Linked DNA regions of Homo sapiens: region 1 is linked to region 2. Evidence: fine-mapped expression QTL. A gene starts in region 2. The other region holds a variant in brackets. All regions are shown on one strand. Distances are between the middles of the regions. Region 1 overlaps NFAM1 (NFAT activating protein with ITAM motif 1). Region 2 holds the start of LINC01315 (long intergenic non-protein coding RNA 1315).

The links. PIP is the estimated chance that this variant, and not a neighbour inherited with it, causes the effect. A credible set is the group of variants that fine-mapping cannot tell apart.
Region 1: its variant is the best candidate, but not a certain one, in a credible set for the expression of LINC01315 in cerebellum (GTEx, PIP 0.87).

The regions. Positions count from the first base shown.
Region 1 is chr22:42,401,862-42,416,775 of GRCh38, forward strand. It overlaps NFAM1 (NFAT activating protein with ITAM motif 1), which reads right to left. Exons shown (of 6, transcript NM_145912.8): 2 at 9,546-9,875; 3 at 7,574-7,686. Among named protein-coding and RNA genes, the nearest start is that of NFAM1, 23 kb to the right of the region's middle. The variant A/G (reference allele first, on the strand shown) is at 8,060.
Region 2 is chr22:42,360,389-42,375,302 of GRCh38, forward strand. LINC01315 (long intergenic non-protein coding RNA 1315) reads right to left here and starts at 8,820. Exons shown (of 2, transcript NR_120597.1): 1 at 8,670-8,820; 2 at 4,012-4,337. LOC124905126 (a long non-coding RNA gene) reads left to right here and starts at 9,104. Exons shown (of 2, transcript XR_007068114.1): 1 at 9,104-9,316; 2 at 11,074-11,438. RefSeq lists enhancers at 2,749-3,402, 4,913-5,755, 7,140-8,074, 8,367-8,486, 8,855-9,149 and a silencer at 8,857-9,016.

The DNA.
Region 1 (14,914 bases), 41 kb after region 2:
TCTGTAAAATGGGAGCAATAATGTGGCCTTGCCCACCTCACATCCTGGCCACTTCTGCCTTATCTTCCAGGTCCTCGCATGCATTTATCCTGTCATTCCTTCCACAAGCATGCACTGCGTGCCAGGCTCCCCCAGGTGCTGGGGACACTAAGTCCCCCGCCTACAGGGGCTATGCTATGGCAGGACAGACAGCATAAAGACAGACGCCAGGTTGTGACAGAAGCCAGGGTGTGGCAGCAGAGACCTATATTCCAGGAGAGGGTGATGGAGCCCAGCCTGGGACGCCTAGGAAGCCCCGGGGAAGGGGCTGGATCCGGGACAGACTGAGTGCAGGGCTTGCTGAGGGATGGATGTGGGGAGAGAGAAGAGCCGAGCACAACTCCAAGGCTTGGGCCTGAGCATCTGGAGCACGTGTGCTGGGACGCAGAGGACTCGGGGACTGAGCACTGCTCTGGACGCATGAGGTGGCGGCACCCTCAGGCCCCCACGTGGGGCTGTGGACCATGGTCTGGAGCTTGGGGAGGGGTCTGAGCAGCAGCATCTGTGGACAGGGAATGCCACCCGCAGAGCAGAAACTTTGCTGCAGGAGCACACACAGAGCGCGGAAGGGCTCGGAGGAAGGGGCCCGGGATGTGCCAGAATTTAGAGGTCACCAAGAGGGGGGTGACCCAGCAAAGCTGCCTATGGGGTGGGACAGAACAAGGAGGGCATGTTGTCCTGGTACCAAGAGGCGGAGTGTGCTGTGAGGCGGGAGGCCTGCTGTGCCCAATGCCATGAGAGGATGAGGATGAGGACGGGCCAGCCGCAGGGAGCGCCTGCTCTGGGAACACCACTTTGACCCCTCAAGTCAGGCAGGAGCCCCCAAACCTACTCTCATGGCAGGAATCATGGCGATTGCTGCCTTCTCAAGAGAGAGACCTCTCCTGGTACTCAAAGCGCCTCAGACCCACACCGGTCCCTCTGTGCCTTCTTTTTTTTTTTTTTTTTTTTTTGAGATGGAGTTTTGCTCTGTCACCCAGGCTGGAGTGCAGTAGCGCAATCCAGGCTCACTGCATCCTCCGCCTCCCAGGTTTAAGCAATTCTCTGCCTCAGCCTCCCGAGTAACTGGGATTACAGGAGCCTACCACCATGCCCGGCTAATTTTTTTTTTGTATTTTTAGTAGAGACAGGGTTTCACCATCTTGGCCAGGCTGATCTTGAACTCCTGACCTTGTGACCACCCACCTCGGACTCCCAAAGTGTTGGGATTATAGTCGTGAGCCACCACGCCCGGCCCCCTCTGTGCCTTCTACAACCCCATGACACAGCTCCTCTGTTTGGCATCCCCACTGGGGAAACCGAAGCCTGGAGCACCCAGCTCAAGCTCGCAGAGGTTGGTAAGTGGCAGAGCTGGAACTGAACGAAGGCCCAACTCTGTGCTTTTAAGCCCCCTGCTGATTTCTACTTCCTTTCTTCCTGAACAGGTCATGACAGCATAACAGCTGATCTCCCCAGCTAAGAGTTTAGCTTGCTGTGTTCCCAGCCTCTGTACAGGGCCTGACACATAGTAGGTGCTCAGCTCTGTCGCCCAGGCTGGAGTGCAGTGGTGCAATCTCGGCTCATTGCAACCTCCGCCTCTCGGCTAATTTGTATTTTTAGTACAGGTGGGGGTTTGCCATGTTGGCCAGGCTGGTCTTGAACTCCCGACCTCAGGTGATCAGCCAACCTGAGCCTCCCAAAGTGCTGGGATTATAGGCGTGAGCCACTGTACCCAGCCTGAATGAATGAATTTAATGACAGGTGTGAAAGGGCCCTATAAATGGTAAGCCCTTCAGCAAATGTTTATTGAGGGCCTACTATGTCAGGGGACCTGTGCTAGAGGCTGGGGCTTGGGCAGGGAACAGGCCGAGAGGCACCCGGCCTCACACAGCTGGCCTTGACGAAGAGATGGAGTAAGCTCAGGGGACCTACAGATGACGAGGGCAGAGGCAAAAGAGGTGTCAGGGAAGAAAGCCATGGTGTCAGAGAGGGCCTCTCTGAGCTGGGTACATGGGAGCTGGATCCAGAAAGCAAAGAAGGAGATCTCTGGGAGGGATCCCAGGTGCCGAAATACAGAGAACAAGGAGGGCCTGGGAAGCCTCTGCTGTTGAAGGGCCTGCGGGCAGGGCTGACTGTGCCACCTGTGGGTCATCCATTCCTGGGCTCTACCCCCATCCCTCCTGCCCCAGCCCCTCCGGGCAGACTTCATGCATCACCAGTTCTTACCACCCTCCAGCTCCCATCTTCCCGGGGGTGTGAGCTCCGTGCCCTCCCTGCTGGCCTTTGCAGAAGTCAGGTGCAGGCATTGCCCCGGGAGGCAATGCCATTCTTCCAGACTTGCCCCAGTGGAGTCGCACACTCTGCTCTTTGTCCTCACTGTCCCCAAAGCTGCCAACCGCGGTTCGGGTCCACCCTCTGCCACTTCTGGTTGGTAGTTTCCAGCTTCAATTCATTTATCCACCACTGCAGGTGCTCCCGGGTCCTCTGTGCCTGGAGGGAGCCTCTTTCTCCTGGACTCTCTCCTTACCCCATCCTGCCGCTGCCATCAGGGGCATCCACAGCGAACCAGGGGCTCCCAGGGCTGCTTTAGCAATGCAAACGCAGCAGCTGCTCTGGCCTCCGGGTTCTCTTTCCCTTCCAGCCCAGGCTCTCACATCAGCCGTTCTCCCCAGGTACAGAGGGTGTGTGGGCAGCAGAAAGCTTCTGCTGTGTGTCAGGCACCCAACTGGTGCTTCAGAAGTGCTCTCCTGCAGATCTCCTGATGTCAGGAGTTTGAGACCAGCCTGGCCAACATGGTGAAACCCAGTCTCTACTAAAAATACAAAATTAGCCAGGCGTGGTATCGCACGTCTGTAATCCCAGCTACTTGGGAGGCTGAGGCAGGAGAATCACTTGAATCTGAGAGGCGGAGGTGCAGTGAGTCAAGGTCGCACCATTGTACTCCAGCCTAGGCAAAGAGTAAAACTCCATCTCAAAAAAAAAAAAAAAAAAAAGTGCTCTCCTTCCATGTTCACTTAGTGGGCAGGGTCTACCCTCCTTATCCCATTTCCAGAGGAGGAAACTGAGGCTCAGAGAGGATCCAAACCTGACAAGAGGGCTTGCTTTCACCCTGTTGGCACTTAGCCTAGTGATGGCACACACGAGACACTTTGCAGACATTCCTGGAAGCACAGGCAGGGTGGTGAGAGGAGGAAGAGGAAGGCAGGAGTCACTGAGGCCATCCTGGAGGGGAGGGAGCAGGGACCAGAACTCAAGCCCAGGGCTCTGAGCTTTGTCCCCTCCTTTACTAATACTGTGATCCAGTTTCTACGGTCCGGTCCCATCTTTGTAGGGCAGGAGCTGACGTTGCTCAGCAAATGGGGGGCTCAAGGTTAAGATCTCGCCTGGCCCCGTTCTGTTCCTTGCCTACTGTGTTTCGTGTACACAGAGGGCACTTGTGTGGGTCACTCCTGTAAGCCTGGGTGGGGGTCCGCAGGCGGGGGGAGTCCCTTGTCACCTGTGCCTGAAGCCCAGTTTCTGTGTCCACGCCCCAGCTCCTCCCCTGGCCTCATTTCGAGTGCCTGGGGACTGCTCGGTAGTGAACAAATCGAGAGATACCCTACTTGCTATCATCATGGGAAAAGCCGAAGCAGGGAGGGAGGGCATATATTGAGGGCGAGAGTCGGGGGCGTGCAAGAAAGGCCCAGGCCGGGCACATGGCAGGTGCATACTCGTGCTGGCTTGGGGAGGGAGGCAGCCTGAAGCCAGTGGGTCTCCATCCTAACCCTGGGCTCATGAAAGCTGAAGGAAGTGTTTCCCACCCATCTCGGGTCTTCTTGGCTCAGCTCATCCCTCTGGCTGGGCTGGAGTCAAGGCGGAGCACAGAGCCCTCCTGGACTTCACAGTGGTACCCAAGGCCTGCGACTCACTTCACCCTGAAGCTCATTAACAGGGCAAGGTCAAAGTAGGACCATTCGCGCCAGTGTCAGACCCATGGGAAGGAGGGGAGCCAGCATCGTGGCTGAGGCCCTGACCCAGACGTTGGCTCACAGAAGGCAGGAAATGCAGCCCCTGGGGCTCCCGGGGGTGAAAGGCGCCAAGCTCATGCTTTTTTCGTACCTCAGAGCCTTCTTGGAAAAGCGATGACATCCCCAGCCTCAAGACAAGGATGGGAAACTAAGGCACGGGCTCCAGACCCAGGCCTGCCACTTGCTCTGGCTCAGGCACGCTCTGACCTTCAGCTTCCTCGCCTGCTCTTCCAGTCCACAGCTCACCTGACACCTGCGGGGCAGGCGCAGATCCAAATACCCCCCGGCTCGCGCCTCACCCCCCGAGGGAGCAGAGCAAACCACTTGCGCGAGTCCCTTTGGGTCCGCTTCCAGCCTTTCATCTGCTTTGCTCACCACTTCCCTGAGGCCACCCTGATCCCGGCTCCTGTCATCTCTGCCTGGACTTTGCAGTAGCTCCTCACTGGGTGTCCCTCACTCAGACAGAGGGTCCATCAGAATCTAGGTCTGATCTCACCCCCTTCCTTGTATCACATAGAGTAAGGGCTAAAGTCCTTTCAATGCCCCCTACCTGGCTGCATCTCCTTCCACTTCCCATCCGTCTACTCTCTGTGAGCTCAGGCTACACCAGCCACATGGGCCCCCATGCAGCTCCTGGGACACCCCATGCCCGCTTCTGCCTCAGAGCACCTGCATCCACTATTCTCCCACTGGCACGCCCAGCCCTGATGTGCACCTGCCTCCCTCATTCCAGGTGCTTCTCCATTCCCATGCCGACCTCCCTTCACATTGCTGAGTTTCCCCCAATAATTATCCCATCTGATATATACGACCTACTCACTGGGTGGTGCATCGTCGGTCTCGCCTCAACAGGAATGCCAATTTAATGAAAACAGATTTCCTTTCTTTTCTTTTTCCTTTTTTTTTGAGACAGAGTCTCACTCTGTCGCCCAGGCTGGAGTGCAGTGGTGCCATCTCGGCTCACTGCAACCTCCACCTCCCAGGTTTAGGTGATTCTCTTGCCTCAGGCTTCTAAGTAACTGGGACTACAGGCGTGTGACCACCACACCCGGCTAATTTTTTGTATCTTTAGTAGAGACAGGGTTTCACTGTGTTAGCCAGGATGGTCTCGGTCTCCTGACCTTGTGATCTGCCTGCCTCGGCCTCCCAAAGTGCTGGGATTACAGGCATGAGCCACCGCACCCGGACCTTCCTCTTTTTTTTTTTTTTTTTAGATGGAGTCTCGCTGTGTTGCCCAGGGGCTGGAGTGCAGTGGCGCCATCTCAACTCACTAAAATCTCTGCCTCCTGGGTTCAAGCTATTCTCCTGCCTCAGCCTCCTGAGTAGCTGGGATGACAAGCATGTGCCACAATACCCAGCTAGTTTTTGTATTTTTAGTAGAGATGGGGTTTTGCTATGTTGGCCAAGCTAGTCTTGAACTCCTGGCCTCAAGTGATCCGCCTGTCTCGGCCTCCCAAAGTGCCAGGATTACAAGCATAAGCCACCGCACCCAGCCTTTTATTTATTTTTCTTGAGACTGTCGCCCAGGCTGGAGTGCACTGGTGTGATCTCAGCTCACTGCAACCTCCACCTCCCGGGTTCAAGCAATTCTCCCACTTCAGCCTCCCAAGTAGCTGGGATTACAGGCGCCTACCACCACACCTGGCTAATGTTTTTGTATTTTTAGTAGAGATGGGGTTTCACCACGGGGGTCAGGCTGGTCTCAAACTTTCTTTCTTTTTTGAGATGGTCTCCCTCTGTCGCTCAGGCTGGAGTGCAGTGGTGTGATCACAGCTCACTGCAGCTTTGACCTCCTGGGCTCAAGCGATCCTTCCACCTCAGCCTTCCAAGTAGCCCAGGACCACAGGTGCATGCTACCATGACTGGCTAATTTTTTAAAATGTTTTGTAGAGATGGGGTCTCTCTCTGTTACCCACGCTGATATTGAACTCCTAAGCTCAGGAAATCCTCCTGCCTCAGTCTTCTAAAGTGCTGGAATTACAGGTGTGAGCCACCATACCTGGCAGACAGATTTCTCTTTTTTTTTTTTTTTTTTTTTTGAGACTTAGTCTTGCTTTGTCACCCAGGCTGAAGTGCAGTAGTGTAATCTCACTACAACCTCCGCCTCGCAGGTTCAAGCAATTCTCCTGCCTCAGCCTCTGGGATTACAGGCACCTGCCAATGCACCCAGCTAATTTTTGTATTTTTAGTAGAGATGGGATTTTGCCATGTTGGCCAGGCTGGTCTCGAACTCCTGACCTCAAGTGATCCACCCACCTCGGCCTCCCAAAGTGCTGGTATTACAGGCATGAGCCACCGTGCTCAGCCTCAGATAGAGATTTCTTGATTTCAGTTTGGTCATTGCTGTATCCCTGGTGCCTAGAACAGGGCCTGGAATGTAGGTTTTCAGTGTTTGTTGAATGAATGAACACATAAATTCCCGTGGAAGAGAGCTCTTCTCTGGGTGTGGGTAGGGTCTTGGCCTTCAGATGCAGGGGCTGAGCCTTTTTTGACCCAGGGAGACCCCAATGATGGTGCCAGTGTTCACGCCTCACACCCAGGGCTGTTGCTGACTCAGCTGCCCCCAGGCTTGGCCCCGAAGGTCCCCGGAGGGTGGAGCAGTAGCCTGAGCTGCTAACAGCAGCCTCTGACGAGCCCTGACCCATCAGCTTTGCACCCCTGAGCCTGGGAGAACCTGGTACCCGCTGGGCACTGCATCCTTTCACTCAGCATGCTGTCTGAGCACCACCATGTGCTGGGCAAGGAGCCCCTGAACAAGACTGCCTCGGCCTCTGGCCTCCTGGCACTTGCTGCCAGGCAGGGAGGGTGGGCCAGCATCGAACAGGAATCCATAGGGCTGGGTGATGATGAGCATGAGGGGAGCCCCAGCAGAGAGGTTCCCTCCCCAGGCAGGTGCCACCCACAGTGTGAGCAGGAGCCGTCCAGGTGAGGAAATGGACCAAGCCACCCCATCCTGCACTCTAGCCCTGACTGCAGTACACTTACTATGCGACCCTGGGCAAATCACAACGTCTCTGAGCCTGACCTTCCAGAGCTGTGAAATGGGAAAAAACCTCGTCATGGAGCTATGCTGGAGGGTGTTTGGGAGGGTGTGTGGGAGGGTGTGTGGGAGGGTTGCTGGAGGGCGTGCGAGAGGGCGAGTGGGAGGGTGTGTGGGAGAGCACCTGTGTGAGTGGCTGGTAGCCCCTTCATCCCTTCCAGCCTGCTGGGATCAAGAAAACCTGAGCAGGGATTCCCTAATCTGGGGAGCTAGAAATGGTAGGCAGGAGGGCCTGCAGCCTCTCCCAGGTTCTCAGAGGGACATGGGACCTGGGAAAGCCTGCAGAGCCCTGGTTTCTTGCAACAAGATCAAAAGGCACCCCATGGCAGCACAGGGAGTGGCACAGGAGGGATGCCCCCAGCCCTGGTGCAAGGGGCCACGAGGGCCACCTGTTACAGATGTGGATGTGCCCTCACCAGGGCCCACCAAACGCCCTGCAGAGGGCAGGCGGGCAGCCGGTGGCGTGTCGGGTGGAGGGGCTGCATGGCTGTGAGCACTGATCCCGTACCTTGTTCCAGAGCAGCAGGGCCGTGCCCACTACACTCAGGACACTCAGGAGGCCGGTGAAGCCAAAGAGCAGGAGCTTCTGTGGACTCTGCGGGGGCTCTCGGTACCCTGCGTCTAGGAGGAAGCGCAGGGGAGCAGAGGGGTCAGTGACCCAGGAGAAAGCGGGGCACACACACCTGATGTTCTCCCTCACTCAGGACCCTGTTTTCAATGCTACCCCGCCAACACGCTCCACACCCCACTAGGCCCCCTGGGAGCCAGGGTTCGGGCCTTCATTGTCCCCTCACTCCTTTTCATGCTCACTGCCTTGCTTCTCTGTAAGGACAGGGGCCATTTGCTCTTCCGGTGCCCCTGCCCCCGTGACCTGGCTCCCCTGTGGGCTGCTTGTAGGGCCCTGAGCGAGATGTCTCCCCTCTCGGGGCCTCTTCTTTTCCCTGTGTGAGGTGGTGATAATACGGGTGGATGTGGCTAGGGCTGAAGGAGGCGG[A/G]TTTATCCTGGGACTGACAGGGGGCTGCACCCAGGCTAGGTGAGGCCCAGCCCTCCTACCCCATGCCATCCCCAGTCCCTCCTGCTGGCATCCAGTCCTCCTTCCCCTCACCCCATCCATCCATCCGACTGGCAAAAACACACGGAGTGCCAACCACATGCCAGGCACATGAGCATGATTTCCCCAGCACTGCCTATTGTCAGCCACCAGCCCATATGGGCACCATCTCCTTCAACCTCATCCAAGTCCTTGGAAGGCAGAGGATCGCCATGAAGACCAGGCCCAAGATCACATCGGGCAAGCAGCAGGACAGAGGTTCAAACCCAGGTCTATGGGATTCCGAAGCCCCCAGCTCCTTCCAGGGGATCGCAGAGGTAGGTCAGAGAATCAGGGCTTTGGTGATGGGCTCACTCATAACTTTTGGGATCATCACTCCTTTGAGAATGTGATGAAAACTGGCTGGGTGTGCTGGCTCATGCCTGTAATCCCAACACTCTTGGAGGCTGAGGTGGGCGGATCACTTGAGGTCAGGATTCGAGACCAGCCTGGCCAACATGGCGAAATCTTGTCTCTATTAAAAATACAAAAAGTAGCCAGGTGTGGTGGTGGACATCTGTAATCCCAGGTACTTGGGAGGCTGAGGCATGAGAATCGCTTGAACCCAGGAGGCAGAGATTGCAGTGAGCCAAGATTGGGCCAGTGCACTTCAGCCTGGGTGACAGAGCGAGACTCTGTCTCAAAAAAAAAAAAAAAGAGAGAGCATGATGAAAACTAAAGATCTGTCTCTGGAAAGGTGTATTATACATGAGCCAAGTGCTCACATACACGAGGCCCCCACAAATACATACATGCACATACCTAGTTCTGCAGAAGTTCCCCCACCATGATGCCCATGGCACACTGAGACCAAGGGCCCAAGGGAGCTCTTTTAGGTCACCTGCCAGCGGCGTTCAGGAGCAGATCTGCATGCCCGGCCCTGCCCTTTCCACACCCAGATGGAGCCCTGGCACAGCCGTAGGCCGGGGCTCCCTGAAGTGGGTCTGCCTGCTTTGCCAATGCTGGTAGACAAGGCAAACCATTCTCTATTTCTTTTCTTTTCTTTTTTTTTTTTTTTTTTTTTTGAGATGGAGTTTTGCTCTTGTCACCCAGGCTGGAGTGCAATGGTGCGATCTAGGCTCACTGCAACTTCCCATCCTGGGTTCAAGAAATTCTTATGCCTCAGCCTCCTGAGTAGCTGGGATTACAGGCACCTGCCACCATGCCCAGCTAATTTTTGTGTTTTTAGTAGAGACGGGGTTTCACCATGTTGGCCAGGCTGGTCTCGAATCCCTGACCTCAGGTGATCCACCCGCCTCAGCCTCCCAAAGTGCTGGGATGTGTGAGCCACTGCGCCTGGCCCCATTCTCTATTTCCGATCCAAAGTCCCAAACTGCCATTTGAAACCTCTGTGTCCTTTGCCCTGGAAGAGCCACAGAGGAAGCCTTACCTCTGACCAGGATGAAGGTGCCGCTGCCTCTCACCGTGGAGTGTGGCCAGTGGACAGAGCAGTAGTAGGTGCCAGTGGCCGATGCTCCCGGCAGCACAAGGGTGACCTGGCAGTCCAGGGTGTGGCTCTGGTTCTCTGTGCCCAGTCCAGGGTGGCAGTTTGTTGGCTTCTTAGGGCTCCTCTGTCCCTGGAGATCTTCATGAAAGTAGCTGACTGTGAAAACCTTGAATTGGGGAGTGTATGGATAGGTGATCCTGCAGCTGAAGGAGATAGCTGTGTTGGCCAGGGAGGCCATGATGGGCAGGCCGGTGTGGGTCACTGACTGTCCTCCTGGAGGGGAAGCAAAGGGAGAGAGCAACAGGTCACTTGAGGCTGCCTCAGTCCCACCCACTTGCCTGTTAAGGCTCACGACCGGGTGCGGTGGCTCACACCTGTAATTCCAACACTTTGGGAGGCCGAGGCAGGCGGATCACTGGAGGTCAGGAGTTCAAGACTAGCCTGGCCAACATGGTGAAACCCCGTCTCTACTAAAAATACAAAAATTAGCCAGGCTAACTTTTTTATGCCCATAACCCCAGCACTTTGGGAGGCTAAGGTGGGCCGATCACCTGAGGTCAGGAGTTTGAGACCAGCCTGGCCAACATGGCAAAACCTGTCTCTATTAAAAATACAAAGATTAGCCAGGTGTGGTAGTGTATGCCTGTAATCCCAGCTACTCGGGAGACTGACGCAGGAGAATCGCTTGAACCTGGGAGGCTGAGGTTGCAGTGAGCAGAGATCATGCCACTGCACTCTAGCCTGGGCGACAAGAGCAAGAGTCCGTCTCAGAAAAAAAAAAAAGAAAGACAAGTCTCGTGCATCGTGTGAGCTTACCTCTGCAGGTGCAGCCCCTACCTCTCCTGCACTTGCTGTGTGCCGGAGTTGTGCCAAGCATATTACGCACACCACTCTACCTCTCCTAATATACCCCAAGGCAAAGTGAGAGCCCCTGTTTTATGAAGAAGAAGAGTCTGAGGGTCAGGGAGTTGAAGCACTTAGCTCCAGATTCCTCAGCAGGTAGAGAGTGGAGCTACAACCCCATCCAGGGCTGGGGAACACCAGAGCCTGCGCTCCCAACCCCTCTTCTTCCCAAAGGCCAAGAGGCCACCTGGGATCAAAGCACAGGCCTGAGAAGAGAGAAAGCTGGTGATGGATGAGAAATAAAGAAGGAGGCAGGAAAACAAAATAAAGAAACCCAAGCGTTTCCTGGCGGTAGACAGAGAGGGAGGCAGGTCTGCCCACAGTTCTCCCCGTGCCAAAGTAAGGAGGCATTCAGGCAGCGGGAGACACAAACCTCTCCCGGACTCTGGGCTCGGAGAGGATTTGTCAGGTTTTTTACAGTATAACAGGCAACATCCTGAGAGCAGTTTTTCCAACAACGCAGAGGTGCTCCACGTGGGGCCATTTCGGCTGTGATCATGATGTCAATGACCATGACAAAGCCAGTTTTGTAGGAGCCACCCCTCCCCCCACTCATCAGAGGCACCTCAGAAAACAGTTTGAAAATTCCCAAAGCAGCAGCCCTGCCTGGGGGGCTCTAACCCCTGCTGCAGGCCTCTGAGATGCTGTTTGGATCCTGGGCTGGGGGCAGCAGCCGCCCCCTGCCCCAGACTTCAGCTGCACAGGCCCCTCGGCTTTAGCGCTCCTGGGTTCTCCAGGCCCCTCCTTCTCCAGCAGCTGAGCAGCAGACAGTTCTAAATTGAGGTCGGCAGCCAGCAGCCAAGAACATGCAGGCCGGATTGTTAATCGGGAGAAGATCGTGTCTTTGAGATGCTCAGAGGAGCCGCAAGATTTATTTTATTGGGGAAAGAGAGGTGTGGGCCCTGCCTGTGGTGTGGGGCTGGAGGGAGGCCAGGCTCATCTCTTCCCAGGTCTCTTCAGTTCAGCTCTGAGCCAGAGCTCTGGGAAGGGGGTCCCAAAGGGAGGCCAGCCTTCTGGAAGATGCGGGAACAGAGATGGAGTTGGCCCTGTGCGTCAGTTAATCCCTCAAAATTCTGGCAATGCTGATATTTTGAGCTTCCTGTTGAGCCACTAAAGAGACACCCCCAGGCTGGGCAGGGTGGCTCATGCCTGTAATCCTAGCACTTTGGGAGGCCGAGGCGGGTGGATTGCTTGAGGCCTGGAGTTCGAGACCAGCCTGGCTAACATGGTGAAACCCCGCCTCTACTAAAAATACAAAAAAAGAAAAAAAAATCAGGAGCCGCGGTGGCTCAGGCCTGTTGTCCTGTCACATAAGAAGGCAAGGCCAGGCATTTGAGACCAGCCTGGACAACACAGAAAGCCCTCATCTATATAACAACAATAATAACAACAACAACAAAAATTTGGCCAGGGCTGTTGGCTCATGCCCGTAATCCCAGCACTTTGGGAAGCCAAGGTGGGCAGATCTCTTGAGGTCAGGAGTTCAAGATCAGTTTGGCCAACATGGCAAAACCCCGTCTCTACTAAAAATAAAAATATTAGCCAGGTGTGGTGGTGGGCACCTGTAATCCCAGCTACTCAGGAGGCTGAGGCAGGAAAATCGCTTGAATCTGGGAGGTGGAGGTTGCAGTGAGCCAAGATCGCGCCACTGCACTCCAGCCTGAATGACAGAGCAAGACTTCGTCTCAAAAAAAACAAAAAGAAGAAAGAAAGAAAAAGAGAGACACACCCTCCCTCAAAGAACTAAAGGCACTCACAGTTCCAGGGAATCGACTCACATGTCGGCAGTCACAGTGGGTTCGACTTGTAATTGACATAACGACACTCGCTTGTGAAATGTCATTCCAGGGAGCTGGCACCCGGGCCCCCTCCAGGGCTCCCCTCTGGTGGACGGAGCAGGGGGGATTTTACCCTGGACTTTGTATCTCCGGACTCTACTGCAGGATTGCTGCTGTTTAATGATAACATTACATTCATTTTGTCATAAAACTAAGAGCCTTGCTTCAGGGCACGGACTTATCCGAGATGGGACAGGGGCAGGGTAGGCATATAGAGATGGGGGCTGTTATATTGTCCCCCAGGGACCCAGGTGGGCTGGGATGGTGGCGCGTGTCTGTAATCCCAGCTACTCAGGAGCCAAAGCAGAAGGACCTCTTGAAGCCAGGAGTTCAAGGCCAGCCTGGGCATCAAATTTTTTTTTTTTTAAATTAAAAAAATTTTTTTTTAGAGACAAGAGGGGTAGAGTGAACCACAAATGACATCACCACCGACCCTGCCCAGCAGCCCTGCACAGCACTCACAGGCCACTGCCCCCTCTGTGTACCTACCCTGTGGCCCCCTCGACCTGTGACCTCCATATCCTCACCCGGGGCCTCCTGCTCCTCCTCACAGTGTATCTAAGAGGCCACTCCAGGGGGAGGGCAGATACACTGTCAGCACCATGAAACCTTCCTGCTTGTCCTGGGCAGGAAGACTTCAGACCAATTTCTTTAAAAATTCTCCCTGTCTGAGGTATCCTTCTAGAAAATGATGAACTCTGCTACTGCAATTAAGCCGATCTTTACAATTCCAGGGAAATCTATAAAAACAGACGTCCGTTGTTCTATATTCTTTTGGGATTCATTTCTTTAAGGTCACCGAGTTAGGCTCATGACAATGCACTGCTCTGGCTTAGATCAGCCACAGCGAGGAGAGGCTTCGAAACGAGAACCTCAGACCTCTGATGAAACTGCTGTGTCCAAAAAGTAAAGAGAGGAAGCCGTCTCTGACGAGCTCAGTCAATAACAACGTCCAGTCTGGAGACGTCAGGCCAAAAAACCCGGGGGAGGAGAGGAGGTCCGCAGTTACAGCCAAGACCTCTGGGTTCTGGCCTGCGAATGTAGCTCACCACCTCCCCTGCACCTACACCTTCCTTTCTTTCTTTCTTTCTTTTTTTTTTTTTTTTTTTTTTTGAGATGGAGTCTCGCTCTGTCGCCCAGGCTGGAGTGCGATGGCGCGATCTCAGCTCACTGCAAACTCTACCTCCTGGGTTCACGCCATTCTCCTGCCTCAGCCTTCCGAGCAGCTGGGACCACAGGCACCCGCCACCATGCCTGGCTAATTTTTTGTATTTTTAGTAGAGACGGGGTTTCACCGTGTTAGCCAGAATGGTCTCAATCTCCTGACCTCGTGATCTGCCCACCTCGGCCTCCCAAAGTGCTGGGATTACAGGCGTGAGCCACCGCGCCCGGCCTGCACCTTCCTTTCAATGGGGCATCAGCACCCCAGAGCTGGAATCCTGCAACTGCCCAGCTCCCACCCCATCTCCTGGACCCGTGCCTCCCAGAGGCCCCTTCAGGGGTGTAGGCTGTAGAGGTCTAGGCCCTAGTTGGCTGCCAACTAGAAGCGGTCCCCCGTGAAGGCACAGTGCTGATAGGTTTCACGGTCATTTCCAAGTCCACAAATTCTTTTCAGCTGTCATTTGTTTGTGCCTCCCACAAACATTGAAGGGGTACCAGTTAGGTCACAGGCCCTGTCCCAGACCAGGAGGGGCTCCCTGCCGTGGCAACATCCCCAGTCCAAAAGGGAAGGAGCAGAAAGAGCCTGAGGCAGAAGGGCTGGTATGGGGAGCATTGAGTTTGCCTGGGATGAGGTTGGGGTGCAGGGTTTGTGGCCCGGGGGTCTAGAGGGTGTCCATGACCCAGAAGTAGGAACCCACAGACAGAAGGAAAAGAAAAATTACAGGAATTGTATCCTGGCTTGGTGTGACACAGGTCCTATGTCAATTAAACACCACGACGATCCTAGGCGGCAACTATTGCAACCGCGTTCTGGAGCGGGTCTAGCTAGGAGTGGTGGCACACGCCTGTAGTTCCAGCTACTCAGGAAGTCGAAGCAGGAGGATCGCTTGAGCCCAGGAGTTTGAGACCAGCCTGAGCACATAGTGAAATCCCATCTCAAAACCAAAACCAAAAAGCAGAGGATCTTAAAGGCCCAAAACCACAGAGATCATGAGTGGTGGGGCCAGGCTTCGGACCCCAGTTGGTCTGGCTGTGTTGAGGAAGAAGAGCCAGCACCCAGGCTGGGAAGCTGTCATCAGATATGGCAGGGGGTGCTCACATTGGCACTGGGCACAGTAGCCATCAGATGCTAATAAGAGGTTTGTCAGAACCCTGGTGGGCCTCACAAATTTTCACCACCAGATGGCCAACAAGTGGCTACTTGGCTCCAGGATCACATGGAGACCACGGGGTCACAGAAGGTGGGTGTAGAGGGGGCTGGGGAGAGCTGCAGGGCATCCGGCCTGCCCCGGGGGTGCCTGCTTCTCACCCCAGGCTGAGAGGGGCTTTAGCGGGACCCTGGCTGAACTTGAGCAGTATTCCCTGAGTGAGGGCACTCGGCCGCTATCTATCTCATGCCAGGGCGTGGTG
Region 2 (14,914 bases):
TCTCCTTCCCCAGATGAGGGCTCTCAGGGCACTTGTTTACACATGTTGCCTCAGCACCCAACACAGATCCTGGCGCAGACCAGGTGTTCGATACTGGCCGTCTCTGCACGGCACCCATCCAGCTATCGTTTCATTCAGCAAATGTTTATTGAGCACCTGCCCTGTGTTGGAGACCTGAGATACAGCAGTGGGAAAACAGGCAGGGCCCGCTCTGACTCAGGTGACATTCTAGTGACACGTATGCACATGTCCAAGCCAAGGGCCAGTGGCATAGATGCTAGAGGGCAAAGACTGGGGGAAGGGCCAGGCATGGTGGCTCACACCTGTAATCCCAGCACTTTGGCTGAGGCAGGCAGATCACCTGAGGTCAGGAGTCACGGTGAAACATGGTTTCACCATGACCTCAGGTGATCCCCTGTTTCTACTAAAAAATACAAAACTTAGCTGGGCATGGTGGCAGGTGCCTGTAATCCCAGCTACTCAGGAGGCTGAGGCGTGAGAATTACTTGAATCCGGGAGGCGGAGGCTGCAGTGAGCTGAGATCTCACCACTGCACTCCAGCCTGGGCGACAGAGTGAGACTCTGTCTCAAAAAAAAAAAAAAAACATGGGGAAAGGATGGGGAGGGTCATAAGGGAAGGTCTGTCTGAGCAGGTCATTTTTTTTTTTTTTTTTTTTGAGATGGAGTCTCTCTCTGTTGGCAGGCTGGAGTGCAGTGGCACAATCTTGGCTCACTGCAACCTTCGCCTCCCAGGTTCAAGCAATTCTTCTGCCTCAGCCTCCTGAGTAGCTGGGACTACAGGCATGTGCCACTCTGCCCGGCCAATTTCTGTATTTGTCTTTTTTTAGTAGAGATGGGGTTTCACAATATTGGCCAGGCTGGTCTCGAACTCCTGACCTCCTGACCTCAGGTGATCTGCCCGCCTCAGCCTCTCAAAGTGCTGGGATTACAGGTGTGAGCCACTGTGCCTGGTCTTTTTTTTTTTAGAGACAGGGTATTTGCTCTGTCACCTAGGCTGGGGCTCCAGTGATCCTCCTACCTCAGCTACCTCAGCCTCCAGAGTAGCTGGGTCTATAAGCGCACACCACCACGCCCAGCTGATTTTTATTTTTTGTAGAGAAGGGGTCTCGCCATGTTGCTCAGGCTGGTCTGAAACTTCTGGGCTCAAGCGATACTCCTGCCCACGTCTCCCAAAATGCTGGGATTACAGGCATGAGCCACGGTGCCCGGCCACAGGTAACATCTGATCGGAGCACTGGAGGAAGTGAATGCGGGAGTGATGGAAATATCAGAGGAAAGAGTATACTGGGGAGCGGGAGCAGCACGTGCAAAGGCCCTGGGGCAGGACCACACACAGCACGTTGGAGGAATAACAAGATCTGGGAGCGAGTTGGGGGGCAGGAGCTGAGGTCTGAGAGGGAACAAGCTGGGGCCACTGACAGGGCCCTCCCTGACCCTGAATGCATGGGAGTCATTGCAGAGCTCTGGGCAGAGGCATGCAGGAGCTGACTGAAGTTCTAACAGGACCACTCTGCTACTATGTGAAGAATGAATTCCAGAGGGCAGAGGAGGCAGGGAGACCCACGAGGAGGCTGCTGTGCCATCCAGGCAGGCAATGCCGGTGGTGCGGTGGAGGTGGAAGGAAGGGTGGAGTGCTGAGATAGAGACAGAGGAGAAGTTAAGGGTCAGGAATAATCCCAAGGCTTTTGGCCTGAGCAAGTGAAGGGAAAGTGGAGGTGAGAGGTTTGTGACTAGTTGAGGCAGAGCTGCCCACTGGCCATCCACGTGGAGAGGTGGCACAAGCTGTTGGCTGGATAGGTCTAGGTTTTGGGAGAGAAGTCCAGGCGGTGTGGGCACCTGCTGTATGACTCCCCATGTCCTGCACATAGTAGGTCCTCAGTAAATGCCTGCTTATTGGGCCTGCAGGGGACACATTACTGGCCACAGCCCAGCTCCCAGCCTCCAGGAGAGGCAGACAAGGGGCCCAGGGCCAATCATAGAGAGCCACACCCTGAGGGGCACGTGGGGCACCACCAGCATTTCTTGGGTGGCACTGTGGAGGGGAAGCTGGGAAGACCTCTTGGGCGAGGTGGTGGAAATCTTGGCAGGTGGAGATGGGTGTTGTGGGAAGGCGAGAAAGTGGAGGAGGAAGGCCCAGTGGAGCCGAGGTGAAGTGGACGGTGCAGGAGCCGAACCCTGGTTTCAATTTGGGCTCTGGGACTGTGAGCAAGACACTTAACCTCTGAGGTCTCCATTGCTGACAGGAATGCTAACTGTCCCCTTTCATGGGTTTGTGTGGGGATCAAATGAATTAATCCATGGAAACTGTGGCGAACAACATGATGGCAGGTGCTCAGTAAACATCACCTGCCTGTTAGCATTGCATCCAAAGCTGCCTGGGAGGAGGGACAGAGCACAGGGAGGGAGAGGGGAACAGCACAGGAGGCCTGGGGGACAGGAGCCTGGGGCCCAGAAAACGAGGGGATTTTATTCCCTTTGGGCGATTGGAGTCATGGGAAGTTCTGCAGAGAAAGGAGTAGATGTTCCTGTCAGTCCTTGATTAGCCTCCGCCTGTGCTCGACTTGGTACACTCCCTCCCATCCTAGGCCGGAGGGTCCTAGCCAGCAACCTGCCTCCTGGGCCCAGGACACACTCATGCGGCTAATGCTTGGTCAGTCCAGGCCTTCTGAGGCCGTTCATCCTCACAGCAGCCTCATGTGTGAGGCCGGTCCTATTATTATTATTGTTTGACAAGTGAGGACACCAAGGCACAGCGAATGTCACACAGATCAATGTCGTCTTGCAGATAGCAGGGGACAGAGCCAGGAGTCAAGCCCAGGCTGGGGATTCAACTCCAGAATCCACACTGGCCTCTCCCAGCTATGAGAATGGCCTCGGAGCCCTTTGAGGTGCCCTCAGAGCCTCGGATGCCCTCAGAGCTGGGCATTGTGTGACACATCCAGCACTACTGTTCTCCCAACAGGCAGGGTGGGGGCCATTGTGTCCACTTTCAGGGAAAGAAGCTGAAAGGTGGTGTGACTTGCTCAGGGCCCCGAAGTTTGCTTCTGGAGCAGCTGGGACCTCAGCCCAGGTCTGGGACGTCCCTGTGCTGGGTGCTTGGCAGGCACGACACATGCAATCTTGCACCCAAGCCTATTTCCGAGGTGAATACTGAGGCCCCCTCAGCCTGGAGTTATTTCTGAGGTCCTTGCTGTCTTTTGAGGAGGAAGAAAATGGATTCCCCCTCCCAGGCCCCTAGGCTTCATGTCCCAGGTCCCTTTACTTTTTCTTCTTCTTCTTCTTCTTTTTTTTTTTTTTTTTGAGATGGAGTCTTGCTCTGTCACCCAGGCTGGAGTGCAGTGGCGCGATCTCGGCTCACTGGAACCTCTGCCTCCCGTGTTCAAGCAGTTCTCCTATCTCAGCCTCCCAAGTAGCTGGGGTTACAGGCGTGCACCACCACTCCTGGCTAATTTTTTGTATTTTTAGTAGAGATGGGGTTTCGCCATGTTGGCCAGGCTGGTCTTGAACTCCTGACCTCAGGTGATCTGCCCTCTTGGCCTCCCAAATTGCTGGGACTATAGGCATGAGCCACCGCGCCCAGCCCCAGGTCCCTTTACTTCTGTTCCTCTCTTGACTCTCTCCTTTCAAAGAGGCTTCTCATTCCAAGAAGCGCCTGGCCCACTGGTCTTGGTCCCGCCCTGCTGACAGCCAGTTATCCCCTGAGCCCAGCCAGGAGACTGAAAAGCTTTACTGCATTCTCTTAAGGGCTTCACAGCCAGGAAAACCAGCAAAGGGGAATATAGTGTCTGCAGACCGGTGAGGTCCAGGGTCGCTCCATAAAAATGGATTCCTGGAAAAACATAAACCAGCAATTTACCCTGTGAATTTTATTGGCCTAAAAAAAAAAAAAAGGCTATCTCATTTGAATAATGAAGAGAGATAAACCATTCCTAGCTCCTCTTTTATTAGTGAATAAGGACACAAACACTCAACAGAAATGGAACACTCACACAAAGCTTCAGGTCTGATTTATTAGCCACTTTAGTTTCATAAAACTCAGCATTTCTATTAAAATAAAATGATGTCCAAAAGGTTTGCTTGTTTTTAAGAAAATTGCATTTAATACAGGGCAAGACTTTGTTATGGTTTATTTATTTATTTATTTATTTTTTAAACAAAGCTCAAATTCTCCTGACTTCACGCCTGTTACTACAGCTGGAGGGAAACCGATTTCAGAATCTATCTGATATGTCGGATTTCTTTGTGGCATCCACTTCATCGCTCAGCAGCCAGCCATGATGTCATAAGCCCATCAGATTTCCGGTAGGGGGAAAACGCTGGGGAATTGGAAAGAATGGATGTTTCTTACCCGTCAGGAAGGCAGGGGAAGGAGCTGGGTATGTTTGGGAGGAGAAGCCGCGTGGCTGGTGGGGGACAGGAGCAGGCTCAATGTTTGTGATATTAAATGTCAGGCAGAAACCTGAAAACCCCAGCTACCCAGATGTTTTCTCAATATCCAGATGTCTGGCACTGAGCAGACCATGCTCCCGCCTCCCAGGAGGTGCTCAGCATTTGGGCTTTGACCTCAGGTCTCCGGGTGAGCGCACACTGCCAGGAGCTGTACATCCTCGCGGCTGCCCACCCTTGGGTTTGGGATTTTTTTTCTAAATCTTTACACATAGATGACAGGAGTAACTAGGTCCAGATTTTTAAAAGCTGTTGAAGCAGTGATTTGAGAAGTTCAGTCTCTGGAACGCTATGTAAGCCAAAAAGGAGGAAAAAAAAAAAAAAACCCTCAGCCAACACACACACAAACATATGTGACTCTTAAGCCATAGGACTTAAGAACCCAAAACAAAACCAGCAAGTCTGAGAACCAGGGCTGGAGACCGACACTGAGAAGCGCTGAGCCCTCCCCCAGGAGCACGCTTTCCCCCAAATCAGAAAAACACCGCACAGCTTTGTTCTTCCTGACAAAGCCCCTTGCTTCCAGGGAGCCGACAGTTGCCAACAAAAGCACAGGGTGGAACTCATTTACACGCAGGCTGGGCTTCAAGGAGCCATCAAGTGCAGAAATGGAAATGGCTTTGCCTAGGAGCCCTGCCTCCCTGCGACTGGTAATGGGGACCCCTGGAGCCTGGGGGAGCCCCGCAGGTCACAGATGGAGCAGGGTCCTGGCCTCCTGGTGCCTGGCTAAGCATCTGCCCCACGGAAGTCACCACCTAGGCTTGTGACATCACAGCTAATTGCCCCTGACAATGAGCCAGGAACTGCAGGCCCCTCAGGGCTGCAAGCCTGAGACTTCACAGGGAGCCGGGAGGAGAGGCAGCTGGGGAGGGGCCATCGCCAATTAAAACCCAGTGCTCAGATAACAAGAAAGAAGTGGTTGAGGGGGACAGTATCGTCTCTGGTGGGGAGAGGGCAGGAGGAAGTGGGTGTGCGGAAGGGGCTGAGGGTGGGGTATTTGTGCCCTCATCTCCTACCACAATCCCCACCCCCAGCCTTTACAGATGAGGACATTGAGGCCAGGGGTGGCTGAGTGGCCTGCCCAGGGTCACCAGGCTAATTAGCAGGACAGTCAGTACAAGGGAAAAGAAAACATAGGTCTGGCACTGCCCAGGTCTTCCCTAAACTTACCTAATTTAATCCTCGCAGCACTCTGTGAGGGAGGGGTTATCCTTAACCTCAGTTTCCAGAGGAGCCAGTGGAGGCACAGAGAGCTTAAGTAATTTGCCCAAGGCCACACAGCGCATCATTAGCAGAACTTGGCCTGAACTTCTAGTCACCTGATTCTGAATCCTGTGTTCTTTCTGCCGGGTGGGGGCAGGCAGTTGAGGTTTAACTGGGAGTTGTGAATCTGATCTAAATACATATTTAAAATGCTGGTGATCCCCACAGAACAGAAGGGAGCAAATCATTGCAAATTAATTTTTTTAAAGCCATTCCAGGCAGGAGGCTTGCTGGCCAGGTGGGTGGGTGGGGAGGCTGCTTTTATTCTGTCCCCGCCAGAGCCTGAATAAAGCAAGTTGACTGTCTCTCTAGCTGTGCGTGGCGGCCACTCAGAGCTCCTGAAGTGGGGCAGTGGGGGGTGTGGGAGACTGGAGAAAAGCTTTGTTAGGCATCTGCGAGGGCTTCATCTGCCCCAGGAAAAGTGCCAGGCACACGGGTCCAATGGAGCCAGGGGAGGGAGGATTCACTGTGTATAGAAACCATGCAAAAAAAAAAAAAAAAAAAAAAAAATCAGTCCCCCTGAGCCGGGTTCCTAATTTCCAAGTGAGAGTTTCAATGTGCCGTGGGTCAACTGAGCAGCAATTGCTGGCCCAGAGACCTGACTCTGGGTCAGAGCTGTGCTGCCCAGGGCCCTGCCCACCAGGATGGGGGAGGCCAGGCAGTCACTGTGGTCCTATATCCCAGCTACTCTGGGGGCCCTGTCGGCCACCACCTTCTCCCAGAGCAGCACTTGAAGAAGACAAGTCTCCAAGAGATGGGACAGAAGAAAGAGGAGACAGGTCGGTCTGAGCTCAGGGAACAGGACTAGCGCCTGCCCTGGGCCTCCCCTGGCAGGTCCACTCTCCCTGCAGCCAGCCAGCCTTGGCACTGCAGTGGTCAGGCTGTGCCAGGCCTCTCCCTTCACAAGGCCTGCTGGTTTCTTTTACTTTGTTTCTGTGAACGGCAAATGGGGTGTGGAGCCCAGGACTCGGGCCAGGGAAGGGGAAAGAAAAGTTTCTGCCATCTGGATGCCTGACCTTGCTGAGCCACTCCTGTTTTTCTGGGGAAATCCTACCCATCTTTTATTTGCTTTGCCTACCATCCACCCAGAAAAGATTTGGGTCCTGCCCTCATGGCACTTACAATCGACAGGGGGAGCTAAACATTGACCAATTAATGGCATAAAAGTGTCCATGGAGGGGGTGGTCCCATGCTATGAGAGTCCATCATAGTGGAATCATCAAGTCAGGGAGGTCAGGGCAGGCTTCCTGGAGGAGGTGACATTTGTGCTGGGGCCCAAAGGATGAGGAGTGTTAATTGCTCTGACTCACTGTCATCCTTGCAGAGTCCCTCTCTGATATCCTCCTAAGGTCGCCTCCCCTCCCCATACCCTGGTCCCCTTCTTGACTGTCTGTTGTTCATCTATATCCCTGCCCTGGTCTGGAAGCCCTATGAGGGCAGAGGCCGGGCCTGTCTTAGTCACTGCTGAATTGCGCATGCCCGGCACTTAGTAGGTGTGCCGGACCACCTGTGGTGGTCTACACTGCCTATTTGTAACTATTTGCTGATCAAAAGAATAAACAACATGTGCAAAAGGCTTTGTAGTAGGGGAAATCCCAGGACAGGAGGATGTGGGAGTAGGAACGGGGGCAAAGGGACAGAAGGTGATGGGAGATGAGGCTGTGCCTCCCTAAGAACCTCCCTAGAAATGCGGGTATCTCCTCCAGCCAAGGGAAACCCTTCTGCCCTTCCCCTGTGGCAGAGACTGTGGTAGGGTGTCTTTCTTACCCTAGAGGAGAGAGTGTCGCATAAATACGCTGCCCCACCCGAAGCGCTCCAGGCACAGCACCCCGGACACAAAGCAGGTGGGCACTAGCACCCCCTGCCCAGTACTCTGCCACCAGCTTCCCTCCTGCGTTCATTCTCTCACCCAGTGCTGCGGGGCCACCTGGAGCTACAGAGAGGGAGTGGGATCCACCCCCAGCAGATCCGAAGGTCTCAATCCAGGGCTTCCCTGCATCCCAGCCCCAGGTCTCACCTGCACTACCCCCATGGCTAGCACCCTTTCTCCTCACTGAGGCGGAGGTGGAAGAAGAGGAGCCAGGACAAATGGGGTTTGAGTCCCTGGGTCTGATTACGAGCGTGGGACGGGTGCCAAATTGGCCTCTTCGTCCCTCAGCTTCCTCACAAGTGAGGTGGAGACTCCCCAGGCTTCCCCGGAGCCAGGGACAGAGTGAGCGCTTGATGATCCCGTCTAAAAGTCTCAAAATGAGCCCCCTTTGGTCTCGCTCTGTCGCCCCAAATCCCTCTCCCGCCTCAGCTGCAGTTTCTCCAGCTCCCGAGGAAGGGGGGCACCCGAATTCCAGCCGCTGAGGCTGGAGTTTGGAGTTCGCCCAAGGAGCTTCCGCCCTGGGATGCGGCTGAGACCCGACAGGTGGGTCCCGTCCCCGCCCCAGATGTGCGCCTGGCCCCTCGGAGGCGCGGCTCCGCCTACGCCCAGACCCTTCCTCCCCGCCAGCCCGCTCAGCGCGCTCTGGCAAACTTTCCGCGTCCAGAACCCGCCCGCGTCTACACCTGCTCGCGGTTCAACCGCAAGCGCAAGTCTACACGGTCTCACCTGCCCCCGGGTTGCTGAAGGGTGCCTCGGTCACGGGGCCGCGTCTCCACAGGCTCAACAGCTGCGAGTCCCCGGGACTGCCGACCTCAGCCTTGGGGATCCGTCTTGACCACCCCCGGATTCGGAGGCGCCCGGGCCGGACCACCTGTGCTGGTCTCCACCTCCTCGGCAACCCCGGGTCACCGGAGATGCTGCAGCTCGAGGGTCCCGCCTGCACCATCCATGGCTCTCGAGATCCTTCAGAGCGCGGACCCGGCCGAGACCCCGCGGAGCCGCTGCGCGTGGCTGGTGCCCGCGGTCGCCCCGCAGTCCCGTATGCGGCGAAACCGCCGGGGCTGCTTACCTGGCCCGCACCCTCACGCTCCCGTCCGGGCTGCGCAGCCGCTTCTCTCACACATTTTGCGATAACATCGATGGCGAAAGAAAATGTTGTAAATCCTCCTGCGGCCACGTGGCTGTCCCCCCACCCCCTTCTCCCTTTCTCTGGCCCTCAGGACAAAAAGGCCCCGCGGCCGGCCGCTGGCCACGGGGCTCTGGGCGGGCGAAGCTGGCTGCAGCGGGGCGTGGTCTGGGGAGGGGCCGGACCGGGGCGGGCGGGGCGTGGTCGGGGCAGGGGCGGGGCGCGCTGGTTCCGGCCGCCCTCCCCGCGGAAACCGGGCCTGAGACTAGGGCTCCTGTTCCAGCTCTTGATTGGTCGGTCGGCCAGCACTGCTGACGTCTGATTGGCTGAGACAAAGAAGGGACTAAGGCCGTAGGGGTGGGGGTTTGTGGATTTCATTCTTTGCCTTTTCGCTCCGGCGGTGGCCGCTGCTCTTTCGGACCTTCCTGAACTCTGCGGCCTTTTCCTCTCTGCTTCCGTGGTCCCTATCATAACGCTACCTGCATTTCCTTGTCCTTCTCTACCAAACAGCACCTGGAGATAGGGACATGGGGTTCGTGCTGCTCACCACTGTCTCCCCAGGGCCTAGCACACAGTACGTGCTCAAAACGGTTAGTTGAATGAATTCGTGGAAAATATGCATACAGGTGTTTAGAGCTATCTTTAATGTTGGCAACATCCCTAGGAGATATTACTATTCTCTCCCGAGGATGAGGAAACCGAGGTGCAGCGAAATTCGGTCACGTGGGGATGAATGGCTGAGCTGATGCTGGGACATGCTTACATTACTGGATCTCGGATCCTCTACACAGTGATGCCCTGTGCAGTGTCAGAGCTCAGTTTCCCGTCTATCAAGAGTGTTGTGTTAGAGCACAAGATAGGTTAGAAGATGGGTTATTACTGCCAGGTCCTGTGGCTCACGCCTATAATTCTAGCACTTTGGGAGGCCAGGGTGGGAGAAGCGCTTGCGCCCAGGAGTTCGAAACCAGCCTGGGCAACATGGCGAAACCCCGTCTCTACAAAAAAAAAATTAAGAAGTTTTCTGGGCATGGTGGTGTGCACCTGTACTCCCAGCTACTTGGGAGGCTGAGGTGGGAGGATCACTTGAGCCCAGGAGTTGGAAGCTGCAGTGTTATGATTGTACCACTTGCACTCCAGCCTGGGTGACAGAAAAAAAAAAAAACCCGTCTCTACTAAAAATACAAAAAATTAGCCTGGCGTGGTGGTGGGCACCTGTAGTCCCAGCTAGCTACTCGGGAAGCTGAGGCAAGAGAATGGCGTGAACCCGGGAGGCGGAGCTTGCAGTAAGCCGAGATGGCACCACTGCATTCCAGCCTGGGTGACAGAGTGAGACTCCATCTCAAAACAAAACAAAAACAAAAACAAAAAAACTTACTTCGGCCGGGCACAGTGGCTCACGCCTGTAATCCCAGCACTTTGGGAAGCCGAGGTGGGTGGATCACCTGAGGTCAGGAGTTCGAGACCAGCCTGGCCAACATCATGAAACCCCATCTCTACTAAAAAATACAAAAATTAGCTGAGCATGCTGGTGGGCACCTGTAATCCCAGCTACTCGGGAGGCTGGGGCAGGAGAATCACTTGAACCCAGGAGGCAGAGGTTGTAGTGAGCTGAGGTCATGCCACTGGCACTCCAGCCTGGGTGATAAGAGCGAAACTCTGTCTCAAAAAAAAAAAGTGTCATTTAAATGAACATGCTTGAACATGCTATACCCAGCACTGTGCTTGGCAGTATGAATGACACAGCCTCTGCTTCCATGTTAAATTCCTGGTAACCTGCTGGGCTCTTTCCCTTCCTGGGAATCCATCCCCTGAACCCCCCTCTGCACCCCCATCACAGGGGAAGTTGGAAGCACTCTGCTCAAACCATGCTGCATTGCCCACTCTGACAGTTTGGGGCATTTGGGGTGGATTTTCCTGTGGAAGTCATGGGGAGCACCGTGAAGCAGACTGACTTCCCGGCTGCTGTTCTCTGATGGAGAGGGGGTCCTTGGGATGCCCCCCCAAGTAGGTCCTTTTGATTGAGAGATGATGTATGAGATGGGATGGGGGAGAGGGCTTCCTCTGACAAAGGAAGGTGTAGAAGCTTCTCCCGGAGTTGGGCAGAGAAGGGTTAATCAACTAGAAAAATGCTGAGAGCCTGTCTCCCATAGGCAGCCAGATTGAGGCATGAAGAGGAGGAGCTGGCTTGGTGGTGTGGTGAATGAGTGCTCCCTGCATCTGTCTTCACATGGCCTTCTTATAGGGACATCAGTCATTAGATTTAGGCCCCATCCTAATCCGGTATGACCTCATCTTAAGAAGATTACATTTGCAAAGACCCTATTTCCTAATCAGGTTGCATTCACAGGTATCGGCGGTCAGGACTTCAATATATCTTTCTGGGGGACACAGTTCAACAAGGCTCAATGAGGAAAGAACATTTTGATTAGTAGGGAACATCGAGAGCAGAGGCCCCAGGGCTGCACAAGGTGGATGTCCCTGTCGCTGCCCACTGTTCTCTTGGGACTACACAGATCCTGGTGCCTAGCAGCTGTGGAAACAGAGTTGGGAGGCAGCCGACCCTCTGGACATCAGGCCTTTTCAGCTGACCCTGCCCAGCCTGGTGCCAGAGCAGGGCCCTGCCTGCCTGCCCCTCCTCCCTCTTCCTGCCTGGTCCTCATTCCCACCCACATCCCAAGATGGACAAGGACAATAAAAGCTGTTTCATAAGCAGCTGGTGATTAATTGCCAAGCTAATTAAAGAGGCAGTAATTGCACTCTGATTTCAGAGGAAGGAGTGATGTCTTGGGCAGGGGTGGGTGGTCAGCTTAGGTCTCCCTGACAAGGCAGAGCCAGAAGACAGAAAGGATTTGAAAAGCCAGGAAGAAAAAACAGGTGCACTTTTTTTTTTTTTTTGAAACGGAGTCTCGCTCTGTCTCTCAGGCTAGAGTGCAGTAGTGCAATGTTGGTCCACTGCAACCTCCACCTCCCAGGTTCAAGTGATTCTCCTGCTTCAGCCTCCCAAGTAGCTGGGACTACAGGTGCATGCCCCCATGCCCCACCAATTTTTTTTTTTTTAGACAGAGTCTCACTCTGCTGCCAGGCTGGAGTGCAGTGGCACGATCTCCGCTCACTGCAACCTCCGCCTCCTGGGTTCAAGCAATTCTCCTGCCTCAGCCTCCCTAGTAGCTGAGACTACAGGCATGCACCACCACACCCAGCTCATTTTTGTATTTTTAGTAGAGACAGGGTTTCACTATGTTGGCCAGGCTGGTCTCGAGCTCCTGACCTCAGGTGATCCTCCCTCCTCAGCCTCCCAAAGTGCTGGGACCACAGGCATGAGCCACTGTGCCCATCCGAAGCACCCTCTTTCTAGAGGTGCACCTGTTGGCTGCGCACAGTGGCTCACACCTGTAATCCCAGCGCTCTGGGAGGCCGATGTGGGTGGATCACCTGAGCTCAGGAGTTCGAGACCAGCCTGGCCAACATGGTGAAACCCTGTCTCTACTAAAAATACAAAAATTAGCTGGGTATGGTGGCACGCACCTGTAGTCCCAGCTACTTGAGAGGCTGAGGCAAGAGAATCGCTTGAACCTGGGAGGCTGCGGTTGCAGTGAGCCAAGATTGCACCATTGCACTCCAGCCCAGGCGACAGACAGAGACTCCATCTCAAAAAAAAAAAAAAAAAAAATAGTGGGTGCTTCAATCATAGCTGCACATAGCTGCAATATTTCATTTGACAGAGTCAGATGGGGGACTTAGATGCTTAAGCTTATCTCTGTACTTTTCCATGTCTTCGAAATATTTCATTAACATCCACACACACACAAAAATGGCAGGGGAGAGGTTAAGTGTTTCTAAATTCTAGTTTGGGATTTATAAATGGCTTCAAATACCAGTGTGCCTTACTTTACACAGTGGAGAGGGTCTTAAAATTCTGCGTCAATTGAATCCCGTTGGCCTACCCAGTAAATCTTAACGCCTCTGATGCTCTAGCTTCATTTCTGATTGATTTTCCCTGGCAGAGGTACCAAATTCTTTGCTTTAAGTGTCAGGCTCTCTCTGTCAAGTAGTTAATGACCTATAAAGCACTTAAAACGTACTGGAGGAGATGCGATTTGGAGGCACCCTGCAGTGTATCCTCTCTTATTGTCGGTAATCACCCCTCATTTATTTGCTCTTATTGGTTTGGAATTTGCTATCAGGTTTTCCTAAAGCCAAGCCCACCAGGAATGGTCCAATTCTATGTGGGCCCAGATGGGTGCCGGGATTGGAACCTAGGGGCAGTGGGCAGCCAGTGTGGCCTCTTTCCTCACGAGCCCTTCGGCTTGGGTGCCCTGGTCATCTCATGGCCACACATTCAGCGGCTCTGCCTCTTGCCAGCTGAGTGATCTTGAGCATTCAGTGCCCCCCTCCAAGCCTCACTTTCCTCTTCCACACTGCCCCAGAGCTGGTGCCTGCCCCTGAACAACTGGAAGATGACTCCAGCCTGGTGAAGTCAGTGCTGGGAGCCGTAGAAGAGGCCCAAGGTCAGGGTGAGCATGGAGGTCATGACCGAGGCAAGCTCCAGGGTCAGAGGTCATAGGAAGCATCCCCAAGGAGCACAAAACAGGGTGGGCCACTGACCTCGGGGCAGAAGAGCCTCTCAGAGAGGGGCCCAGCCTGGGAGGCAGAATAGGCTCTTCTAGGAGGGAAAGTGTCTTCATTTTCTTTTCTTTTTTTTTCCTTGAGACGGAGTCTTGCTCTGTCGCCCAGGCTGGAGTGCAATGGCGCAATCTTGGCTCATTGCAACCGCCATCTCCCAGGTTCAAGCGATTCTCCTGCCTCAGCCTCCTGAGTACTGGGACTACAGGCATGCACCACTACACCCAGCTAATTTTTCTATTTTTAGTAGAGACAGGTTTCGCCATGTTGGCCAGGCTGGTCTCAAACTCCTGACTTCAGGTGATCCACCTGCCCTCAGCCTCCCAAAGTGCTGGGATTACAGGCGTGAGCCTGGCCAGTGTCTTCATTTTCTATGGCTGCTGTAACTAATCACCACAAACCTGGTGACTTAAAACAACACACGTTATCCCTATTGAAAAGCCGGGAGAAAAAAGAAAGAAAAAAATTATTTTTTAAAAACCCACAACACGACACACATTTATTTTCTTACAGTTCTCAAGACCGGAAATTCAGAATCAGTTTCAACAGGCAGAAACCAGGGTGTTCACAGGGCCACGTTCCCTCCAGAAGCTTTGAGGAGTATCCGTTTCCTTGCCCTCTCCTGCTTCTGGGGCTCTGTTCCCCGGCTGTGGCCTCTTCTTCCATGTTCAAAACCAGCGGCGTACCATCTTCAGACCTCTTTCTCTGCTTCCATCATCACACCACCTTCTGCCTTTGGTCTGTAATCTCCCTCTGCATCCCCCTTTATAAGGGCGTTTGTGATTGTAATGATCCAGGATAACCTCCTCATCTCCAGATCCTTAATCACATCTGCGGCGCCTTTGTCATATAAGGTAACATTCACAGGTTCCAGGATTAGGATGTGGATATCTTGGCGAGGGTGGGATTCTTCAGGCTACCACAGAAAGCCACCAACCAAAGTGGTTCAGATCATGGATTCTGAAGCCACTGCTGGGGCCTGAATCTCAACTGCACCATCTGCCAGCTAGGTGACTTTGGGCGAGTTGTTATATCTTTTTAAGGCTCAGTTTCCTCATCTGTGAAATGAGATCAATGCCTACTTATTGCCACAGATAAAAACTGAATAGGCATTTAACCATCTGACAGGTAGAGGGAGTTTCATGCGCCAGAGCCTGGACCTTGAAAGAGGCCCCAGCAGGGCCCTTCTGTAGGAGGAAAGGAGGAAGGGCAGGAAAGGGTACGGGCAGGGCAGGCTGGGTGGAGGAAGAAGCTGAACCACGTCCCAGGGAAGTGTGTGTGTGCTCTGTCCTAAGGGTAATGAACAGGGGACAACAGAAAGTGTTTAAGTAGGGCAATTTTTTTTGGTTTATTTTTGTTTTGTGTTATTGAAATGCAATTCACATATTATAAATTTACCCTTTTAAAGTGTACAATTCAATGGATTTTAGCATATTCAAGAGGTTGCGTAACCATCACTGCTGTCGCATTCCAGAACATTTCCATTACCTCATAAAAAATCCCCATACCCATTAGCAGTTCTTTTTTTTTTTTTTTTTTTTGAGACAGAGTCTTGCTCTGTCGCC